Linked DNA regions of Homo sapiens: region 1 is linked to region 2. The links come from fine-mapping of genetic effects on gene expression. A gene starts in region 2. The other region holds a variant in brackets. All regions are shown on one strand. Distances are between the middles of the regions.

Region 1 (4,394 bases), 63 kb after region 2:
GATATTGTGATTTTCTGGAGTATAGTATATCCGTGTCTCTGTGTCTTAGGTTTACTAGATGCAATAATACTTCTCTTTGACATTTGTACTGAAGTGATTTGATATTAAGTAAAACAGTTAATGTTTGAATATAGGCATATTTATAGGTTTTTTCCGCTCCCCCCCAACCCACCCTTTTTAAAAAATCTATACAAAGCCCTTGTTTGAGTCTCATCATGCACATCAAATCATGGAGTTAGGTCTTCTCTGAGCTCAGGGGAACACAAGTGCACAGAGAGAGATGTCTTGAGGGTCACTACCAAAGAATTACCCTCATTGTCCCTCACTCAGGCCATGTGTACATGCGATGCTGCTGAGTGTGCTGGGGTGGGTGGTGGCCACGTGGCTCCCCCAGAGCACTTCCTAACTGGCAAGCTGGGAGACCCATTACTGGTGAACTTTGTGGAAATTAGAACTGTATCTTTTACATAATCTTGGCATATTACATTTCATAATAAAAACATACATTTAGTTGCATGCTACATCACTATTGATTTTATAATTAATTTCTTAAGCTTCAACCATGTTTTATACCTTATTTCGTTACATCATATATTTGTAATGTGTAATATGAAATCTTTTGCTTTAATGTCTTTTTTTAAAATGTAGAATGTTCTAAACTTGAAAGGCAATTGAATGTAGTATGATGAAAATGTGAATGTTTTGCTGCTTTCATGACCAAAGATACAGGGCTAGTGGACATTTAGAATAATAATTAAAGCTAGAGTCTTGTATGTCTTTTCTTTGAAGGAGTTCTAACCTTGTAAATTGAGAATGACTTCAGAGAATTTTGATTAAGAAAACATTAAAATCTTAACCGGCACAAACACTCCAATTTTTTTCACTGTGAAGCCGCAAGCAATTTTTTTTCTTTTTCTTTCAAAAGCCTACCTTCTGAATTTATTTCTTGTTTACTCATTTCAGAGAGGGTAGTAAAGAAGATCTATTTCTGGTAGTCATATCGCTTGAAAGGTATTGGTAAATGTGTTTTCAGTCGTGACCATGTGGAAAGTGAACAGTGTTGGCAAACATTACCGAGAAAATCATGCTTTTCAAGATGCCCTTGCTTTGGGATATCCTTCCTAGGGAGAAAAAAAAAAAGTAGTTTAACAATTGTGAATTCCATTTCTTATTTCAGTTTCTGCTGCAGTAATGGGTTCCCACCCACTATAATTCCCAGCATTTATGTTCTGTTGTATTCTCCCCTTAGCCCAGTAACATTTTTATCTAATACCCCATTCCCCAAGTTTTGAGACAGATTGACCCCCTACTCATTATGTGGCTCTAGTTGAATTTTAAAATGTGGAATATTGGGCTTGCAGGCAGTAGGAGCTGCAAATCTGGTAGAGTGGGAGTGTGGAGTTAATGGTGAGTATGTTAATAAAGGGAAACTGTCTCTGACAGAATCTCAGTAATGTTTACCAAAACATGTCTTTCTACAGCTGGTAGGATAAATGATGCTACCCTGTAGCTCAGCTACAGGCTGCAGTGCAAACTTTTCTTCCATCCAGAGAAAGCAGAATTCCCTCCTAGTAACCTCATTACAAATACTGTTACTAGAAGGGCATGTGCTGTCTGTCACCTTCAGTAATATTTGTGCCATCTCTTGATGACTGATGACCTGGATCGAGTATTTCTATGAAGGGTCTTCTTAGGCCCCTTACATACGCAAGAGGGGTGCTCTAGTGCCATAGCTGTAGTTCACAGGAAGGACACCAGGAGAAGTTATACCTAGGGCTACTGAGCAGCTCATCATCCCTGTTTCTGCACAGTTTCCTGAAACTGGCCATCAGGGCCTCTGAGGCACTCAAATCAGTTTACTTTTAGCATGCCCCCATCAGGGTGGGTCTCACTGTTAGTGAGGATACGGGTCTGGTTTGATGTTTTTC[T/C]AGGCAAAATGCTTAAGTGTTCTGGTTATGCCATTCATTCATACGATGTGTGAAATTTGCTTAAAAGGGAATTTTCATGATTTGATTTAGATTAGTATTTAAATATCTGCTTTAGATAGCAATTAATTTTATTGTAAAAATAAGGAAAAATATGTGAATATGTGAATTTTTTAAGCCTGAGAGATGATAGAATGTTCCCATATTTTTCTTGTAAAGAAAATAATATTTTAACTTACACATCCTGTAGAAAATACCACCTTTTCCCCTTGTATTACAGTACAATGTTTACATTACTATACTGTCAAGCTGAAAGTATAAAAAATGTACATATACATTTTGAGTTATGTATCCTTTTTTTAAAAAAAAGTTCGAGTCTGTTGCACTAGGCTGTACATGACTAAAGTTGACAGATGCTATGCTAGATTTATAATCACTAGTTCTGGTACTTGTGTCTTTGTATGATCAAAGCATGCAATAAGCAATACAAAATACCAAGCCTTATACTTAAAAGAAGTTTAACATATTGGTTAATATACTGGTTAATATACTGGTTAAACATATTGAATGTATATAAGTGGCAAAACTAGATTTTTAAGGAAGTGTACATTATAATATTGGAGCTCAGTACTGCATGAAGAGACTTCATTAAAACTAAGAAAACATTTATTTGGGGAGAAATTTTAGGCATTTAAGAACTTGTATTTTTCTATTTTAAAAAGTTAAATTATTCCGTAATTTGGAAGAAGTTTCGTTGAATGTAGGACATAACCGTTTGAAGGGTTTTCATTTGAAAAATTGATGTATTTTGTGCCTTAATATTTTGTTCTTTTAATAAAAATGCTCTGAATTTGAATGATTGATTCTTGATAGTATTTATTGGTGCTAGATTATATAAATCTGTAGGACATATAGACATATATAGACTCCAATAGATGGCAGGACATAAAATTCTTAAAACAGGAGGCACAGCTAATCAAACATGGAAAAGTGCTCAACCTCAGTAGTAGTAAAGAAATGCAAAACAAAAGATAGGGGATAGTTTAAAAAATCAAATTAACATAAGTTTGTACTATGGTATATTTGTAAAATCCTTTTGCTTTCAAAGTCTGATGAAATGAGCACACTTATTAATGATGGTAATATAGTTGATTTCCTTTTTTGTGAAAAGTTCAACAATGTGTTTATAACCTTTGAATAATGTCAATTCTGGTGATATTTTAAAAAATGATTCAAAATACAGAATAAAGTTTCTCCACAAAAGTGTTTATTATAATATTAAAGTAGAAATAAAATTAGAGACAAACAATATCATAGTTAAGTGAATTATGGTTTAACCAGCTACTTTATGAGATATTGTATAGCCATTAAATTATGAAGAATTTATAATAAAAATACTTATAAGAACTGTGATGCAGTGGCACATATGTGAATGCTTATCTATGTAAAAATAAGGTAGAGCAACTTACTCTCATGGTTCAGAAAAAATGCATTCTATCTTCCAACTTTTCTGTAAAGTTACAGAATTAAGTAATTACATAATTCTTAATTACATAAATAATTACATAATTAATTATTATTTTGAAATAAAGATAATTTAAAAAAAAAAAGGCCGGGCGTAGTGGCTCACGCCTGTAATCCCAGCACTTTGGGAGGCCAAGGTGGGTGGATCACAAGGTCAGGAGATCGAGACCATCCTGGCCAACATGGTGAAACCCTGTCTCTACTAAAAAAAAAATACAAAAAATTAGCCGGGCGTGGTGGCGGGCGCCTGTAGTCCCAGCTACTCGGGAGGCTGAGGCAGGAGAATGGCGTGAACCCGGGAGGCAGAGCTTGCAGTGAGCTGAGATTGGGCCACTGCACTCCAGCCTGGGCGACAGAGCGAGACTCCGTCTCAAAAAAAAAAAAAAAAAAAAAGTAGAGAAAGGATTGAGTGGAAAAGCACTGGGGTGGCATACATGGTTAGTGTTGAGGCTCAGCCAGGCTGTGGTCACAACTTGATTTTAGCCTTTCAGAAACTTAAGACAAAAAGTTTATTTCTTGCTCATGTGACAATTCTTCAGTAGGTATAGAGGTGGGAAGGGCCACCCTCCTCCACATGTCCCTCAGACACCCGGGGTTTATTTCCATCTTGCGGACCCACCATACCCTAGGGCCTAATTTTTACCCCTAATTTTCTAAGAAACATATTCAACATAAATATGTAAAAATAATAGTGCCTTGGCCAGGCGCAGTGGCTCACACCTGTAATCCCAGCACTTTGGGAGGCCGAGATGGGTGGGTCACGAGGTCAGGAGATCGATACCATTCTGGCTAACACAGTGAAACCGCATCTCTACTAAAGATAGAAAAAAATTAGCTGGGCATGGTGGCAGGCACCTGTAGTCCCAGCTACTCGGGAGGCTAAGGCAGGAGAATGGCGTGAATCTGGGAGGCGGAGCTTGCAGTGAGCCGAGATTGTGCCACTGC
Region 2 (4,394 bases):
AGCTACTCAGGAGGCTGAGGCAGGAGAATGGCGTGAACCAGGAAAGCGGAGCTTGCAGTGAGCCGAGTTCGCGCCAGTGCACTCCAGCCTGGGCGACAGAGCGCGACTCAGTCTCAAAAACAAAACAAAACAAAAAATCATTGCCTCTCCAGTGTTCTTAACTAAAGGTGCCATCTGCCTAACTTAATTTAGGAATGCCTGTATGTTTTGGTACTGTTTAAATATTCCCAGCTTTGCCACTCTCCGTCTCACACCAACATCCAGTCATCTGGAAGATCTTTCCATTCCTCCAGTTCTCTCGTAACTAAAACGATTTCAGACTTACCCCTCACTCCCACAGGTAACTCGCCCTTAACTCTTCTTGTAGAACTTAAATTTCATGTATTGTTCTCTCCTTCTGTCCCTCACTTACTTCCTAAATCTCTGGTGGATGTTCCCCTGTGGTCCTGTTACAGTTATTCTGACCTAAACAGAACTGATCACGTTGCTTACTGGGAAGATGCACATGCAATCTCTAGTGTATAGTAGGTCCTCAATAATTACTGGTGACTGGTAAAGCAGCCAAGGCCTTTGGACTATAAATCGATCTTATTCTACGTTAATAACAATATTAGCACAGGATTCTATTCCCTTGCTGGATATTATTTACATTTGATAATGAATGAACTAATTCTCTTTGACAGCAAAACATGTATTCAGCTTACAGCCGAAAATGCAAGGGAAGGTACACAATAAGACGGATCCAAGCCCTGACCCCTCTGAGCTTTAAGCCAGTCAAGTAACTACTTGTTCTGAAAAGTATTAACTGTCCTATTAACGTTAACCTTCACAACACAATGCCTTGTGTTCAACTGGCCTTGGCCTCAAAGCACTTTCCTGGCACATTCCCTGAATTTAAAGAACGGTTTCCATACAGCTGAGAGGGTCGAGGCAGGGGTAAGTGTAGAAGACGCAAGAAATGGAGACACCCTGGGAACAGAACTCTAGACTGCACTCCAACCGTAGCACTTACTAGGCATTCGACTCCAGGACCTTGACACTCGCGCTCGCTGGCGGCGAGCCCCGCCTCCCCACTGCGCCTCATCTCCCAGACAGGCCCCGCCTCCCCACTCAGGCCCCGCCTCCCCACTCAGGCCCGTCTCCTCACTCAGGCCACGCCTCCCCGCCCAGTCCCGTCTCCGTACTAGGGCTTGCTCCAAGCCCTGCTTCCTCGCCCAACCTGGCCTCCCCACTACGGCCTAACCCCAAGCCCTTCTCGTCCAGCCCCGTCTCCACACTACTGCCTGGTCCTCAACTCCGCCTCCCCACTCCGACCCCATCTCCCTGACCAGCCCCGCCTTTACGCTCAGGCTCCGCCTCCCCGCCGGGTCTTGCCTCCAAATCCCGGCCCCGCCTCCACGCGGCCCCGCCTCCACGCGGCCCCGCCTCCACGCTCGGCCTGGCCCCAAGCTCTTCCTTCCTGGGGCACTCTGTCTCCGCACTCCGGCCTGGTCCCGAGCCCCGCCCCGCCTCCACACGGCCCCGCCACCACACGGCCCCGCCTCCACGCGGCCCCGCCTCCACGCTCGGCCTGGCCCCAAGCTCTTCCTTCCTGGGGCACTCTGTCTCCGCACTCCGGCCTGGTCCCGAGCCCCGCCCCGCCTCCACACGGCCCCGCCTCCACACGGCCCCGCCTCCACACGGCCCCGCCTCCACACGGCCCCGCCTCCACACGGCCCCGCCTCCACACGGCCCCGCCTCCACACGGCCCCGCCTCCACACGGCCCCGCCTCCACACGGCCCCGCCTCCACACGGCCCCGCCTCCACGCTCGGCCTGGCCCCAAGCTCTTCCTTCCTGGGGCACCCTGCCTCCGCACTCCGCCCTGGTCCCGAGCCCCGCCCCGCCTCCACAGTCCCGAGCCCGCCTCCAACCCTGCCCTGTCCCCACACCCAGCTTGGCCCCGAGCCACGCCTCCCACCCCGCCCCCACACTCCCGAGCCCCGCCTCGTCTCCACACTCCGGCGGCGCCTCCCTACCCGGCCCCGCCTCCGCGCTCGGGCTGCCAGCCCTCCCTTGCACGTTCCGGCTCCTCTTCTATCTTCACGCCCACGCTAGGCCCTGAGCCCAGCCTCCACGTCTCGCCGCCAACTCCACATCCTGGCTCCTATCTCTGCCTTCCAGGCATCTCCCAGCTGCACGCTCGGGCCCGGCTCAGAGCCCTAAGCCCTGCCTCCCGGTCCTGGCCGGGTTTCCCAGAACTGCACGGCGCCTCTCCGCCCAGGCCCAAGCGCGAGCCCCTCCTCCACACCCGAGTCCGAGCCCCGCGTCCCGGATTCGGACCCGCCTGCCTGGGGCGGTGCTGCACCAGGTGCGGGTGTGGCAGGCGTCTCGGAGCGCCAGGTGCAGCTTCCTGGTCAAGATGGTCGCCGCCTGCCGCTCGGTAGCCGGGCTCCTGCCACGCCGCCGCCGCTGCTTTCCCGCCCGGGCCCCGCTGCTGCGCGTCGCCCTCTGCCTCCTGTGCTGGACCCCGGCGGCTGTGCGCGCGGTCCCTGAGCTCGGGCTCTGGTTAGAGACAGTCAACGACGTAAGTGGAGTGTCGGGACCCAGGCGTGGCACGTCTCGGGCCGTCAGGGCCGTCGTGCGGCTTCGCTTGACCCCGGGCTTGTTCACCCTGCCTCTGCCGGGTCAGCACCGGGTCCCCTGATACCCTCCCTGAGCCTTTTGTCTGTTACAGCCGGGGAGCGGGGAGCGGCCCCTCCTCCGGCCCGACCTGGGCTGCAGGCAAGAGCCGTCAGGATTGCGCATGGGACGGCCCTCGGGTCCGAGCGCTCGGACTGTTACTGAGGGTCACCATGCCCGACGCCGTGGCCCTCATTCTGCTCTGACATGTTTTGGCTGGATCAGGAATCTCTCGGCACATCTAGCAGCATCTTTGGGATTCGACTCTTCCTGTCCGGATGCAGCCACAGTGGGCCACACCCCTGAGGCCGCAGGGAGGACTTGCCAGCGCTTCAGTTTCTGCATAAACTTAGAAAGCGGGTCTGCCGCTTCCTTAAAAAAAAAAAAGAAAGAAAAAATTTAAATGAGGGGGAAACGTGCAGTAGTCACCCTACCTCTATTTCTCTCTTCTTGAGTTCCTGAATTTCTCTACAGTTCCTGTCACAGTTCCGGGAGAGAGAGTGTGTGTGTAGGTGGGGCGGGACTTGTGATTAGGGAGTGCTTGAAAGGCGAATCTGGAGGCATGAGTGGGTGGAAACTCTTCTTTCCAAGGCAGGCTATTAGAAAACTTGGCGTCTGGTAATTAGAGGAGATGATGTGGGAGAGATGCAGGGGCAGAATTATGGAAAGTCTTGCAAAAGAGAGACAGGAAGTCTGGAAGAGGCATTATCTCCGGCTTCTCTGGGGTCAGATGACTCATCCAGCACTGTTTGGGATGGGTATTTTCCACATGCATGAAATAATGTCCAGGTTCTAAAGATGAGACTTATATTTTGATTTCCTTAACCAGAAAAAGAAAGTAGTTCCAAAGACTACAAATACTTCCCACAACACAAAAGCTACTCAGAGGAACACGCTGGGTATCTTTCTGGATCTTTTAAGACCTAGTGCAGCCATTTCCTCCAGGATTGGATTCTTCTGGGTTGGTGACCTAATTTGTGTGCCAGTTATAGTCTGCACATCTCCATTATTTAATTTCCTGAACGGGAAAAAGTAGAACTCAGTGAACTACTCTCATGGCTTCCTGCTGCTACGATAGTGAATAGTCAATATAACTATATTGGAAGTGAATCAGTTGCATGCATATTGTTGGATTACTTGAACATATCTGTATAGATCTTTGCTAAGTGTACTGTGAACATACCTGCAAAGATCTTTGCCAAGTGTACTTCTTCCTGCATGAGGAAGAGAAGTTTGCTCCTTGAGTGCTGCATGACCTTTAGGCTAATTTTACTCCTGTGTGACCCTGGGCCGCCAGAAGTCTAAAAGCCCTTCTCTCCCAAGAGTGGACTTATATTTTCCACATTTCAGGTTGTCAGAAACAGGAAAGGAGAGTGGGGCTTTCTTTCATTTGTACTGCAAATCTATCAGGAAATTTTGTTTCTTTGTTTTTGTTTGTTTGAGACAGAGTCTTGTTCTGTTACCTAGGCTGGAGTGCAGTGGCACAGTCATATGGCTCACTGCAGCCTCAAACTCCTGGGCTCAAGCAATCCTCTAGTCTCAGTCTCCTGCGTAGCGAAGACTATAGGTACATGCCACACACCAGTTAATTTTTAAATTTTTTTGTAGAGATAGGGGTCTCACTATATTGTCAAGGCTGGTCTTTAACTGCTGGCCTCAAGCCATCCTCCTGCCTCAGCCTCCCAAAGTATTGGGATTACAGGCATGAGCCACTACACCTGGCCAAGAAATGGT

Evidence for each region. PIP is the estimated chance that this variant, and not a neighbour inherited with it, causes the effect.
Region 1: its variant is fine-mapped to the expression of TMEM87B in fibroblasts (GTEx, PIP above 0.99).

What each region holds. Positions count from the first base shown.
Region 1 is chr2:112,116,534-112,120,927 of GRCh38, forward strand. It overlaps TMEM87B (transmembrane protein 87B), which reads left to right. Exons shown (of 19, transcript NM_032824.3): 19 at 1-2,781. Among named protein-coding and RNA genes, the nearest start is that of FBLN7, 20 kb to the right of the region's middle. The variant T/C (reference allele first, on the strand shown) is at 1,929.
Region 2 is chr2:112,053,192-112,057,585 of GRCh38, forward strand. It overlaps TMEM87B (transmembrane protein 87B), which reads left to right and starts at 2,078. Exons shown (of 19, transcript NM_032824.3): 1 at 2,078-2,565. The coding sequence starts at 2,401. RefSeq lists silencers at 1,070-1,119, 1,320-2,049 and enhancers at 2,780-2,849, 2,880-3,219.